Linked DNA regions of Homo sapiens. The protein of the gene in region 4 purifies or fractionates together with the protein of the main gene of each other region. This does not show direct contact. Each region holds a gene or a part of one and is shown on either strand. Other genes may lie near its edges.

Region 1 (3,500 bases), on a different chromosome or scaffold from region 4:
TCTTTCACTCTTAGGTATTTTAAGTAGAACAGACTGAAGTGTCATTGAATTTAACCTGAGTTTTAACCAATTTTCTTTGACTTGAAATTTTAAAATACAGGGTATATTCAGTTCTCGAGGAGAAAAGATCCTTATGGCAGATGCTGATGGAGCCACAAAGTTTCCAGATGTTGAGAAATTAGAAAAGGGGCTAAATGATCTACAGCCTTGGCCTGTGAGTATAAGAATGTAGTTTAAATAACATTCAGTCAAGAATGCAGGAGAGCTAAAGTAAAGTTAAAGGAGAGTTTACCTATCAGTTTAAAAACTGAGTGTTTTTGGTATGAAATCCTTATACAAATGGTACAGCCCCATAGAGGAACTGATCATTTTGTTACAAATATTGTCTGATTTTATGAGATTCACTTGACAATTACTTATTTAATATTGTGACCATTTCTCTCTCTTGGTTTCTGATTGCTTCTACCCAAGTTTTAATATTTATTGTGCATATTCAATTAAGACTTTTATTTAAAAGTATAGCCTGAATTCCAGGTAAAGATGTGAAATGAAGCTGGATCACAGAATCCAGTTTTTGATGAAACAAACAAAATCACAAGCAGCAATCACTCAAAAAGGATTATTTGAAACTTCACACCATAACTTCAAAAAGTGGAGGTTGAGGAAAGAAATAAAATCCTAGTACCATTCCTACCTTTTAAAAGCCATTTAGAGAAATAAGATGAATTTGGCAAACGCTCAGGATCCTGAGCGTTTGCCAAATACTTCCCAATCTGGAAAAAATGAATAAGAGAATGAAAAAGCACCCTTGGACAACATCAAACAATATACCTACCATCACACAATATGTCAAACAATATACCTACCACCACACAATACGTCAGAATTTCAGCAGAAGCAAGAAAACTTGCTGAGGTCTGCCATTTTTCAGGACTGTAAGCTGAATTGGGGACACAGATCCATGTGACTAGATCCTTTCCTGGATGGAGTGTACCTTGTTCAAGACACTCGACAAAATCTCACAAGACCAGGGAACCCAAGTAACCAACAAAGCCACGTAGAGCTCCAGGGGAGGGTCCCTCCTCCCTGCCTTCCCACCGTCTACCCTCAAGTCCAGATATAATACTCAGGCCTTGAAATTCTAGTTTAGAGGGGGAAGAGATACAGGTACATCAAGGAGAATGTTCATTTACTGTAGGAGAGCTGCCCATGTTAATCATGACAAAATAAAAGAAAGAAATGGCAATCACACCAACATATAATTACACAAAAAAGAATTAAAGTTGCATACAAAAGATTTAAGACAGTGTAATCCAAGGAAAAGGACAAAATTACATGCAAGTATTCTGGCTAAAGAAATAAAACAATGAAAATAAGAATTTAGCAACACAGGTCTTCAAAGGTAAGATGACAAAACAACAAAATGGTATTAAAAGAAAAATTACAGGCCAGGTTTACATGCCTGTAATTCCAGCACTGTGGGAGGCCAGGGCAGGAAGATCACTTGAGGCCAGGAGTTTGAGCCCAGCCTGGGCAACATAACAAGACCCCATCTCTGTAAAAATAAGAGAAAAATTAACAGGGTGTGGTGGTGTATGCGTCTAGTCCCAGCTACTTAGGAGGCTGAGGCAGGAGGATCATTTGAGCCCAGCAGTTTGAGGTTATAGTGAGCTGTGATTGCCCCACCGCACTCCAGCCTCAGTGACAAAGCAAGAGCCTGTCTCAAAAAAAAAAAAAAAATTACAGAACTAAGGAAACAAATTGAGACCAAAATAAGATGAATATGTAAAACTATCTATGAATGAAATAGACCTAGTTTAGAACTGAATATTATTACATATTTATTAAGATCCTGTTATAGCAAAAACCAAACCAAACAACACAAAAAGGTAAACATATAAGGCCCCCCCAAATTTAATAATAATTACAGAAAAACTCACTGCATATCCTTCTAGAAATAAATATTTATTTAATTCCACACTTTGTGAAGTATATTTCTCCCCCACCATCATCCATCCCCATCCCTTGTATTTCTAGCTGTTTTTTTTGTTTTTTTCTAGGTGTTTTTTGTTTTTTTAAGATTCTAAGTGAATCAACTAATATAATTCTTAAGAGAATTAGCTGTAAAGATATTCATACCATTGCTCTTCAGACAAGTAGCACTAGCTGCATGTGTCTATTTAAATTTAAATAAAATGAAAATTTAGTTCCTCAGTTTCATTGGCCACATTTAAATTACTTGTTGCTAAAAGCTACCTTTTTTTTTTTTAAAGGAGATAAGGTCTTACTGTGTTGCCCAGGCTGGACTCAAACTCCATCCTCCTGCCTCAGCTTCCTGAATAGCTGGGACTACAGAAGTGAGCCACCATGCCCCGCTTGTTGTATAGCATTTCCATCATCACAAAAAGTTCTCTGGCTTATAACATGATATGAATTTATTGTTGGATATGTTGTAGTTCACTCTTACTAAAAAAGTATTTCATGTCCAACATCTTAGTAAATCATGATAGGCTAAAAGGAAAATCTCATTCATAAAGTTACTTGGTGTGATTTCCTGATTTTCTCCAGAGGACCCCAAGAGAAACTTGATAAATATTTCCCTTGCATTATCTTTCTAGAGGGAGTCACTCAGTGGGAGGGAGGGCATAAGGCATCAGATTTTTAGCAGCTGATTTTGTCATTCAGCAGTAGGGCAAAGATAATTTAAATGATTTTGCTGATGTTAGGGAGTGAACCAAACAATAAAACAAAAATCTGAACTTTATTCTTATAAATCTAGTTCCTTTATACTACTCTGTAAAGAAAAGGAGTTCTGATGCCATATTTTTTCCTTATCATAATCCCATTTACTACACTGTTACTAGAAATGTTAAGTTTTAAAGAATTAAAGCATGTGATTATCATTAAGCTATTAATTCGTAGCCTTGGTTTTACAGCACCTTAAAGTATCCCTAATTATTTAAGTGTCCCAGCTCAATTGAATTAATTTGAATTAAATTTAGTAAGTTTTATTAATATGCATCATGTAATACTCTTTGCAGGAGGTGGAAAGGAGGCAAATAAATGATAGGTGGTTAAAGTTACAAAATTCATAGTTTTTGGATCCACCCAGTGAAAAATATGGTTCTGACAAAGCTTATAAACAGCCAGTCATTGCTCTCAGAAAACTTACATTCTGAAGTTGACATGCATAGAGAAATTAGAAGAAATCTTCTTACTTATGTAATTCAGGTGTTAGAGAACTTTTTCTGTAAAGGACCATATAGTAAATATTTCAGCTTTAAAGCCAGTCAGCCTCTGTGGCAGCTGCTCAACGCTCTATTGTAGCATGAAAGTAGACATAGATAAAATACATCCTTTATTTACACAAATAAGCAGCAGATCAGATTTGGGCTACAGGCTATAGTTTGCTGACTCTTAAATCTAATTTAATCATTTATCCAATATTGGAAAGTTTTTACAACTACCTAGTGATCTTTCAGCCTCTACTGCATAGCTCT
Region 2 (2,369 bases), on a different chromosome or scaffold from region 4:
GCCTTGGTCTCTCTTAGCCACAGCTGTCTCTGGTGAAATGCAGGCAATGATTCCGGCTCCTCAGGGAGGCTTCTACGGATCCCTGTGCTCCGGTAAAGTGAGCAGATAGATCCTCTCATAATGACTGCCCCACAGGTCCCTTCCTAGGCAGAGAGATTGAGTGAGTCGCCCATGGTCGCCACAGCATGGACACAGCAGAGCCCAGACTCGTGAGCCAGCATAGGTTAGTGCTGATCTGGCCGCCTCTCCAAGCTTTCCTCTTAGCCACGTTCATCATTAAGAGGTTCTGAAAAGAAGACTTTTAGGGATATTTTTAAGTACTGCATGGCTTTTAGAAGTCCCCTGAGAATAACTGGTCACACAGAGGTTGAACCCAGACCCCTGGCTCCCAGCTGCTTGGCTCCAGCCACAACACTGCTGACCCTTGCCAGCCCCAGAGCTCCCAGTAGTCCCCATTATGAAGTCCATAGGCAGAGGGCACACGTGGCTTCCATACCCAAACTGCAATTCCTGGTCCTCTTGCTGGAGACCCTAGAGGTAGGTGGCTATAGATGGAGCCAGTGAGGCCTAGAAATGGGGAGCATGTTTCCTGTTCCCAACCAGCGAGGTGTCAGTAAATCACCAGGAGCGCGGAGCAGCCCCTGCCCGGGACCATAGCTGGTGATCCCCCATAGTGGGCAACCATGCCCAGCCTGCTTCCTTGATTGGCCAAGTTTGGGGTGAGGGGGTGGTTGGGTTTTCCTTAGGGATGGCAGCCCTATTGGGGTCTGTGGGTGCTCAGGGCTGCGGGCCGCATGCCTGCTCACCAGGCCCTGCCCACCTATGCTCGCTCCTTTCTCTCTGTCAGCGTTGGGGCCTTCGTGAAGACCTGGCTGCCCTTCATCCTTCTCCTGGGCATCATCCTCACCGTCAGCCTGGTCTTTAACCTCCGGTGATGGCTGCTCGGTGGCCCCACACCCACCAGGGTCCCGAGGAAACAGCCGCCATCCCTTTTGGTTCCAGATTTTTTTCTCCTCACCCCAAAAGGCAGGGTTGGGCCTGCTGTTGTGGACCGGGGGTCGGGGCTGGCAGGATGGAAGGACTGAGGACCAGCATGAAGTGGGGGTTTGTTGTCTCCCTGCCTCTCAGAAGCACCCTGTCCCCTCCTCCCCAGGCCTGTGACTCCGGCCCTGGAAGCCCCTTTGTTCTTCTGTTGAAAGGCTTTGGCTTCCCGCTGTAGAGCTGCTCCCGCCACCACCTGCTGGGGTCCTGCCTCAGCCCAGTGCCCAGTATGGGGAGAGGAGGACATTTGGGCTCACCTGTCAAGGTGGCCCTGGGACCAGAGCTGGTCCCAGCATGGGGTGCACCGGGTACACTTAACGTGTCTCTATAAGCCAAGTTGCTTCAGGACCTTCACCACTGGCCTCTAGAATGGTCCAGAGGGGCTGGCTGGGTCCCTTTGTCAGACTCCTGCCGGCAGCTGCCCTGGGGGACATGTGTGCCCATCTGGCATCCTCCAGCCCGTGCAGTCCGCTCTTCACTGTTCCACGGCCTCCCAGTGCCTCCCAGCATTGGACCCATCTCCCCCTGCAGTTTGAGGCCAGAGAGGTGAGTGGACCTGACAAGTGCCAGAGTAACCGTGTAGACAGAGCAGTGTAGACAGCACTCAGCCCCAGCCCCAGGTGTGGACCTCATGCTGGTGATGGCTCCCCTGGGTGGCCTGCCAGCACAGCCAGTGCCATCAGGGAGCTGAAGGGGCTGTCCCCCACCTAACTCCAGCTCCCCCTTCACGTTGTCACCAAGGCCCTGTGCCGCCCGCCTCGCCCCCCTGCTCTGTGGATTCCTTTGGGAAGGGCTCCCTGGGCAGGACAATAAAGAGTTTTGACTCCAGTTGGTGCCCTGTCATTGTTTTCTCCCTCTCTGGGGCCCCCTTGCCCCTTAGCTCATAGCGTCTTGGTATTCTTGGGACCCTATTACCCTTGACAAGGGTCTAGTTGCCAGCACCATGGTTGAGTCTGCGTCCAGTGCCTGGGGCCATCAGCATCCCTCAGGTATATCCCGCCCCTGAAGTCTGGGGATTCCCTGCCATTCTCCATTCCCCATTCCAAAGCTTTCCTCTTGAGGCAGGTGGGCATTGAAACCCCTTCCATCGTCCCTGTTGGGAAGGACTTGTAGGCTTGGGGTTAGGGCTGAGTAGAGCCTCCACTGCTGTCCCCACCACCCGCCGGGGTACAGAGTTGGGGATGAGCCAAGAGCACTGCCAGCCTCTGGTCACTGTATCCATCCAGCCTTCGCTTGCCTCCGATCCTTTGCTCTCCACCATCCCTCTCATGGCGGCCCTGCCTAACCAAGGCCCAGCTTAAAAGCCGCTTCCTCCCTGAAGCCTTTCC
Region 3 (3,500 bases), on a different chromosome or scaffold from region 4:
TATACACACTTGTGTACCACACACATGCTGCCAAGTCTTGAAATTCCTTTCCCTTGTAAAGAGGTTTTGGGACATTGAATTCATTTAGTTTCTTCCTACATTTGTTGTTGTTTGTTTGTTTGTTTGGTCTTCTTTCTCCTTTTCTGCTTCCTGACCCCTAACTATAGGCAAATGTTTAAAGTTCCATCATTGGTCTAAATTTCTATTAATGCTCTGCTCCTAAACCATCTCTGCCATTTCCACATCACTTTTAAATGCCTAATTCTAATGAGGAAAAGACAATGGAAACAAATTCCAGTACATTTTAAGTGCTATAATTGAATACCCCATGGAGCTGAAAACTCAACGTATATAAAACGAAACTACTTACTTAGCTCCCTTCCCCAAGCTAATTTTTCTCCTTAACTTGTCTCTTATTAATGTTAAATATAGTGAACCCCAAGTTTTTCCTCAAAGAATCAGTATGTCAGTGTGTTCAGCTCTCTTCTTCTTCGATTCTCCATTTTAAAGTTTAACTTCCTGGTTCTCTTCTCCCCCTTGCCTCTGGTTTCAGTAAACAACTTTCCCACCAGTCCTAATCAGTATTTCACATCTGTTCGCTGGTCACCTGCTCCATCCTGACTCACCCCTGGTCACCTTCTTTGACCTGAGTCACCCCTGGTCACCTGCTTTGACCTAAGTCATCTTTAGTTACCTGTTCCTAACTGTCCTTCCTGCTAGACTAGTCACCCTGCCACTCTGGCTCATATGCCTGCTCCCTTTAAAATAGCCAGTCGGAATTAGCTTAGACTGTGTGGTCCAACCATTGTCAATAGGGGAACGACACACTAGTAGGGCCCTGTGTCAGAAATAAGAACTCCTTCCCCTCCCCTGTGCAGGTGTGCTCTCTCCATTACTCCATTTGCCAGTCGCACCCTTCTATAGAAGTAAAAATTGCCTTGCTGAGAAAATTAAATTTATGTTCGAGTGCTATTTCTTTGCAGCACCAGGGAACGAGCATTTTGCATTTCTAACATTAACAGTATCCTCAAAGTCTTGTCTTTGTTTCTTTTCTTGTTGGTAACATTCAGTAATAAAGATTATTTATTGAGTAATTGAGTGTATTATATATGCTAGCAATAAACACTATATTTTACACACATAATTTCATTTTATCCTGATGACAAACCTATAAGTTAGATAGTAGTATTCTTATTTTATGGCTAAACTAATGTCATTTCAGGAAGATTAAGTAGCTTGTACAAGATCAGAGATCTATGAGGGGGCAGAGTGTGAACCCAAGAGGCTGGTTTCATACCAGAAGCTGGTCTGCCATTCTATTTTGCTGTAAGCTCCAGAGCTGTAAAACCGATTTGTTTGCTGAGTGGACTTTACCCCTCCACTTCTGTGTTCTGCTTACAGTTTCCTCTAATTGAAATGCCTTTCTTTTGGTAATTTAAGCTGTCAGATAAGATGCTACTATGCTACTACCATCAAAAACACTGGTCGAAACTTTTGTCTCCCCATCTGGGAATAATTTTTCTTCCTTTGAACTTTTGTAATGTTTTATTTAAGCCACGGTTATGACTTTAACAAATCTTCTAATTATTTTTTAAATTCATCTGCTCTCTTCTGCTACACTAGAATATCAGCTGTTTGAGGTCAAGGACTATGTCTTACCCATATTTAAGCCCCCATTAGCCCATAGTAGTTGAGTATAGGGTTTGAAGGCACGTAACATTTCTTTGGTAACCCTGCTTCTTGGAATATAAAATGGAGATGAGAACAGTCTGTTTTTCGTAGGATTGTTGTAGAAATCAAGGAGGATGGTGCTCATAAGAACTTAACACAAATATATGTGTGTTATTTACATTGTCACTGCATTAGTCTATTATGCATTGGTATAAACCTGAGGCTGAGTAATTTATAAAGAAGAGAGGTTTATTTGGCTTATGGTTCTGCAGGCTGTACAAGAAGCATGGCACTGGGACCTGCCTCTGGCTAGTGCTTCAGGAAGTTTCCAGTCATGGCGAGAGGCAAACGAGGAGCATTTGTGTCACAGGGCAAGAGAGGGAGCAGGCGAGAGAGAGGTCCATACTCTTTTAAACAACCTGCTGTCATGTGAACAAATAGAGCAAGAACTCAGTTATTACTGTGTGGACAGCACCAAATCGGTTATTCATGAGAGATCCACCCCCATGACCCAAATACTTCCTACAGGGTCCCACCTCCAATACTGGGGATCAGATTTCAACATGAGGTTCTGAAGGGACAAATATCCAAACTACATCAGTCACTCATTCACACTAAGACATACCCGTGGTGATAAGTAATTCTTGGACAATTTGCATAAGAAAGATAAAAATCCTTTTGTATGCCTTAGACCTTATGTAAAAACTGTCAATTCTGATCCAGATAGTAGAAAGTGAAAAGAAGTGTTGATGGGAAAGGAACTTTGGATCAAGGCCCCCAAGGACCTGGTCCCAGACATGTGGGTTTTCTCTGGGATTCCTCTCCCCTAACCCACTGCATCCAGGAGATCCTCTCCGTGTACCACTCTTTCTCCTCGGGAGTAGCTCACATTCCAGCACTTGCCACTCATTTCAGCCTAAATGTTCCCTCTTTGGAGAGGGCTTGCTGGCTGGCCATTTAGGTATCTCTTCCCCTTTTCTTCCTATTCCTTTCTTCCTCATAGGATGGTCATTCTTTGTCATTATTTGTTTGTATATTTATTTGTTTATTACTGTTGATTATTATTTTAGTATTTGTTTTTTCTCACCTTCCAAGTCAGGCTTCTCAAGGATCGAGTTGGTATGTGTGCCAGTGATGAGTTCAGTGCTAGGTCATAGGGGACCGTAAAGATTTGTTGAAAGGCTGGGAATTATTGGATTGCTTCAAATAAATTTCACATCAGCTGTATAAATTGGACATCTGACAGGGATTGCATGATTTGAAAATCTGTTTTCTGAAAATACTTTAAAGTCTGAAAGGAGATGTATATATGGTTTCTGTCTTTTTGTCCATTAGCTCCTCACAATTTATTTTTTTTGCTGAGTGTGAGTAGTTTGGATGTGAGGATATGGAACACTGATATCAGCTCTAGACTTCTTTGAGATTTGCCCTACAGCTACGAAGATAATAAGGATCCTCTCAGAAGGATAGCTATGTTAACAAAACTAGAATTAAATCAATTTTAGGATTTTTAACAGTGCAGACAATATCCCATACAATTGGTAAATTATTAGTATGGTTTTTTCTTTTGAACTACTGTTGTTTGACTTGGTTTGTATGTAAACATACCACTTCTCTAGATTTTGGTCTATTGGATGATTTTGATAATACCAATCTTTAATATTCATGGAGTGTTTTTAGTACATAAAGATGATATAAATGGAAAGTGTTGCATGTTACTGATGTAGTTTATGGATTTCTTGTTTTAGACATTATGTAGGTAAATGTAAATGAGAAAACAAATGTTGGACTGGGTGTCTGTTCCTTCTATCTCTAAAATATTGGCTTGG
Region 4 (2,744 bases):
GTGCCTGCCTGCGCCCAGACAGCTGCACACAGGGTGAGTGGGCAGACACACAGACACACACTGACACACACAGACACACACAACACAGATACACACACACGACACACACAAGACACAGACGCACAGAGACACTGACACACACGCATGATGACACACAAAATGACACACAGTGACACAGACACACACTGATACACATGCATGATGACACACAAAATGACACACAGTGACACACACAGACACACACTGACACACACGTACAATGACACAGACACAGAGACACACACTGACACACACGTACAATGACAGACACAGAGACACACACTGACACATATGCATGACACACAATGACACACACAGACACTGACACACACACAGATACACACATACAATGACACACACAAGACAGACACAGAGACACACACTTGACACACACACAATGACACACACAGACACTGACACACACACTGTGGTGCATGGTGTGGTCCCTAACGAGCCATGACAAGAGCTCCCATGCTGAGGCCGCATGCTGGGTGTCCCTTGTGTTTGCAGAGTACAGCATCTCGGCAGCCGCCATCGCCATCTTCAGCCTTGGCTTCATCATCCTGGGCAGCCTCTGTGTCCTCCTGTCCCTCGGGAAGAAGAGGGACTATCTGCTGCGACCCGCGTCCATGTTCTATGCCTTTGCAGGTAGACTGGGGGATCTGCCTGAGCGCCGGGGCCGGGGGACCATGTCGCGGGGGATTCTCCGCTCCACCCTCATGCCCACCGCGAGATTTGGGTGAGGGGCATTTCCCAGGCTCCATCCCCATCCAGGGGCAAACCTGGCCAGGCCATCAGCGACTCCAGGTGGGTTGGAGGGAGACAGAGCTTGGCGGTTTGTCCATTCCTCTCCACGACTCAACCCTCAAGGCCCCAAAGAAACTGCCCAGAGAATGATTAACAAAAGAAGGAAAGAAACGTGGTCACCTTTCTTTCTTTTTCTTGGGGGATGAGGAAGAGGGTCTCGCTCTGTCATCCAGGCTGGAGTGCAGTGGCACAATCACAGCTCACTGCAGCCTCGAACTCCTGGGTTCAAGGGTTCCTCCCGCCCCAGCCTCCTAGTAGCTGGGACTACAGACGTGCACCACCACACCTGGCTAATTTTTCATTGTATTTTAATTTTTTGTAGAGACGGAGGGCTCATCACTATGTTGCCAGGCTGGTCTCAAACTCCTGGCCTCAAGCGATCCTCCTGCCTCAGCCTCCCAAAGTGCTGGGATTACAGGTGTGAGCCACCACACCTGGCCACATGGTTGCCCTTCTGAGGGATGCAGGAATAGGGTGGTGGGTGGACAAATGGATCCTTCTGCAGGTTCCCATCTAGAACCTGCCTTGAGGCAGCTTTTCCCCCAAGGCAAGGTCACCGCCTCCTCCATGCACACAGGCTGGGATGGGGCTGGTGGCTACGGCAGACGCCCCTCGGTCCCTGAGCATGCCTGGCTCTGCCCCCAGGTCTCTGCATCCTCGTCTCGGTGGAGGTCATGCGGCAGTCGGTGAAGCGCATGATTGACAGTGAGGACACCGTCTGGATCGAGTACTATTACTCCTGGTCCTTTGCCTGCGCCTGTGCCGCCTTCATCCTCCTCTTTCTCGGCGGTCTCGCCCTCCTGCTGTTCTCCCTGCCTCGAATGCCCCGGAACCCATGGGAGTCCTGCATGGATGCTGAGCCCGAGCACTAACCCTCCTGCGGCCCTAGCGACCCTCAGGCTTCTTCCCCAGGAAGCGGGGTCTTGGCCTGGAACCTTCCAGAGAGGAGGCGGGAGCAATTTTAGCCCCACCCTGCTCCCATCTGCCCCCCTGCAACAGTCGCAGGCTGCTTCCTCTCTCTGAGTTCCTCTGGGCTGCCGCAGGCTCCCCTGGGAATAGAGCAAGACGTGAGTCCTAACCTGGCCACAGTTGGGGGAGGCAGAGCCAGCAGGTGGACAGGTGTTTGCAGGGGCCCAACTTCCCCTGGAGCTCAGAGGTGTCCCCACTGTACCAGCCTCTGATAAGCTGCCTCCAGTTGTCCTTTATGAACATTGCAGGGACAACCTGTGTTTGCCAGCTGGGTGTTCCGTGTAAATAGCCAGCCTGTCTCTTTCTCGGTGATAAAACACACCCTCTCTGGTGAGCCCAGCGTCCCCTCCTTGGCTTCCAGGAGCCCTGGGAAGCATTTTTAACTGGGTAGAATCTGACTGTGGCTTGAAATAAAAAGCTCTCAGAAAACTCATGCTTTCCTGGAGCCTTGCATAGAAATCGCTCGGATTCCCAGTCACATCAGGGGCTCCCCTGACGCCGAATGAGAAGGAAAGGCCGGTCACCCGGGTATGTTGAGGTCTTTTGTGGGGACAAGAGGGCAACGCACGTGGCTTAGAGGCTCTGAATTCCAACTCGTATCTCTAGGCCCTGAGATTGTTTTCGGGAGAAACTAGAAACCCTCTGATGAAGCAAGGGTGTTAAAAATAGGAGGGGTTATTTCTAGAGCCTGGCATGCAACGCACCTGGTGCCAACACAGCGCTAAAGCAGCCAGCCAGTGTCTGATTTCTGATGTTGGATTTTTCTTGTGAAGAACATCAGGAAGCAGGGCTTAGCAGTTAGACACTTAGGGCCACATGGAGAGCCATGATTTGCACTCTTCTGCCTTCCAAAACCCCGCAGTACTTGCCCAGGCTTCCAAAGTGGAGTTCAGACATGATCGGCAGATGGGATCCTTGCCTTGCACCCC

Evidence for each region.
Region 1: the proteins of CACNG1 (region 4) and ALG5 purify together in Homo sapiens (affinity purification with mass spectrometry; one large-scale study listed by BioGRID and IntAct). This does not show direct contact.
Region 2: the proteins of CACNG1 (region 4) and TMEM222 purify together in Homo sapiens (affinity purification with mass spectrometry; one large-scale study listed by BioGRID and IntAct). This does not show direct contact.
Region 3: the proteins of CACNG1 (region 4) and LMBR1 purify together in Homo sapiens (affinity purification with mass spectrometry; one large-scale study listed by BioGRID and IntAct). This does not show direct contact.

The regions. Positions count from the first base shown.
Region 1 is NC_000013.11:36,982,341-36,985,840, reverse strand, and holds part of ALG5 (dolichyl-phosphate beta-glucosyltransferase), read left to right. Parts: intron 1-100; coding exon 101-214; intron 215-3,500. UniProt on the Homo sapiens protein: Dolichyl-phosphate beta-glucosyltransferase that operates in the biosynthetic pathway of dolichol-linked oligosaccharides, the glycan precursors employed in protein asparagine (N)-glycosylation.
Region 2 is NC_000001.11:27,334,532-27,336,900, forward strand, and holds the end of TMEM222 (transmembrane protein 222), read left to right. Parts: intron 1-135; exon of another isoform or gene 136-223; intron 224-847; coding exon 848-935; 3' UTR 936-1,869; downstream 1,870-2,369.
Region 3 is NC_000007.14:156,757,184-156,760,683, reverse strand, and holds part of LMBR1 (limb region 1 protein homolog), read left to right. Parts: intron 1-3,500. UniProt on the Homo sapiens protein: Putative membrane receptor.
Region 4 is NC_000017.11:67,054,554-67,057,297, forward strand, and holds the end of CACNG1 (voltage-dependent calcium channel gamma-1 subunit), read left to right. Parts: intron 1-549; coding exon 550-687; intron 688-1,491; coding exon 1,492-1,718; 3' UTR 1,719-2,244; downstream 2,245-2,744. UniProt on the Homo sapiens protein: Regulatory subunit of the voltage-gated calcium channel that gives rise to L-type calcium currents in skeletal muscle. Regulates channel inactivation kinetics.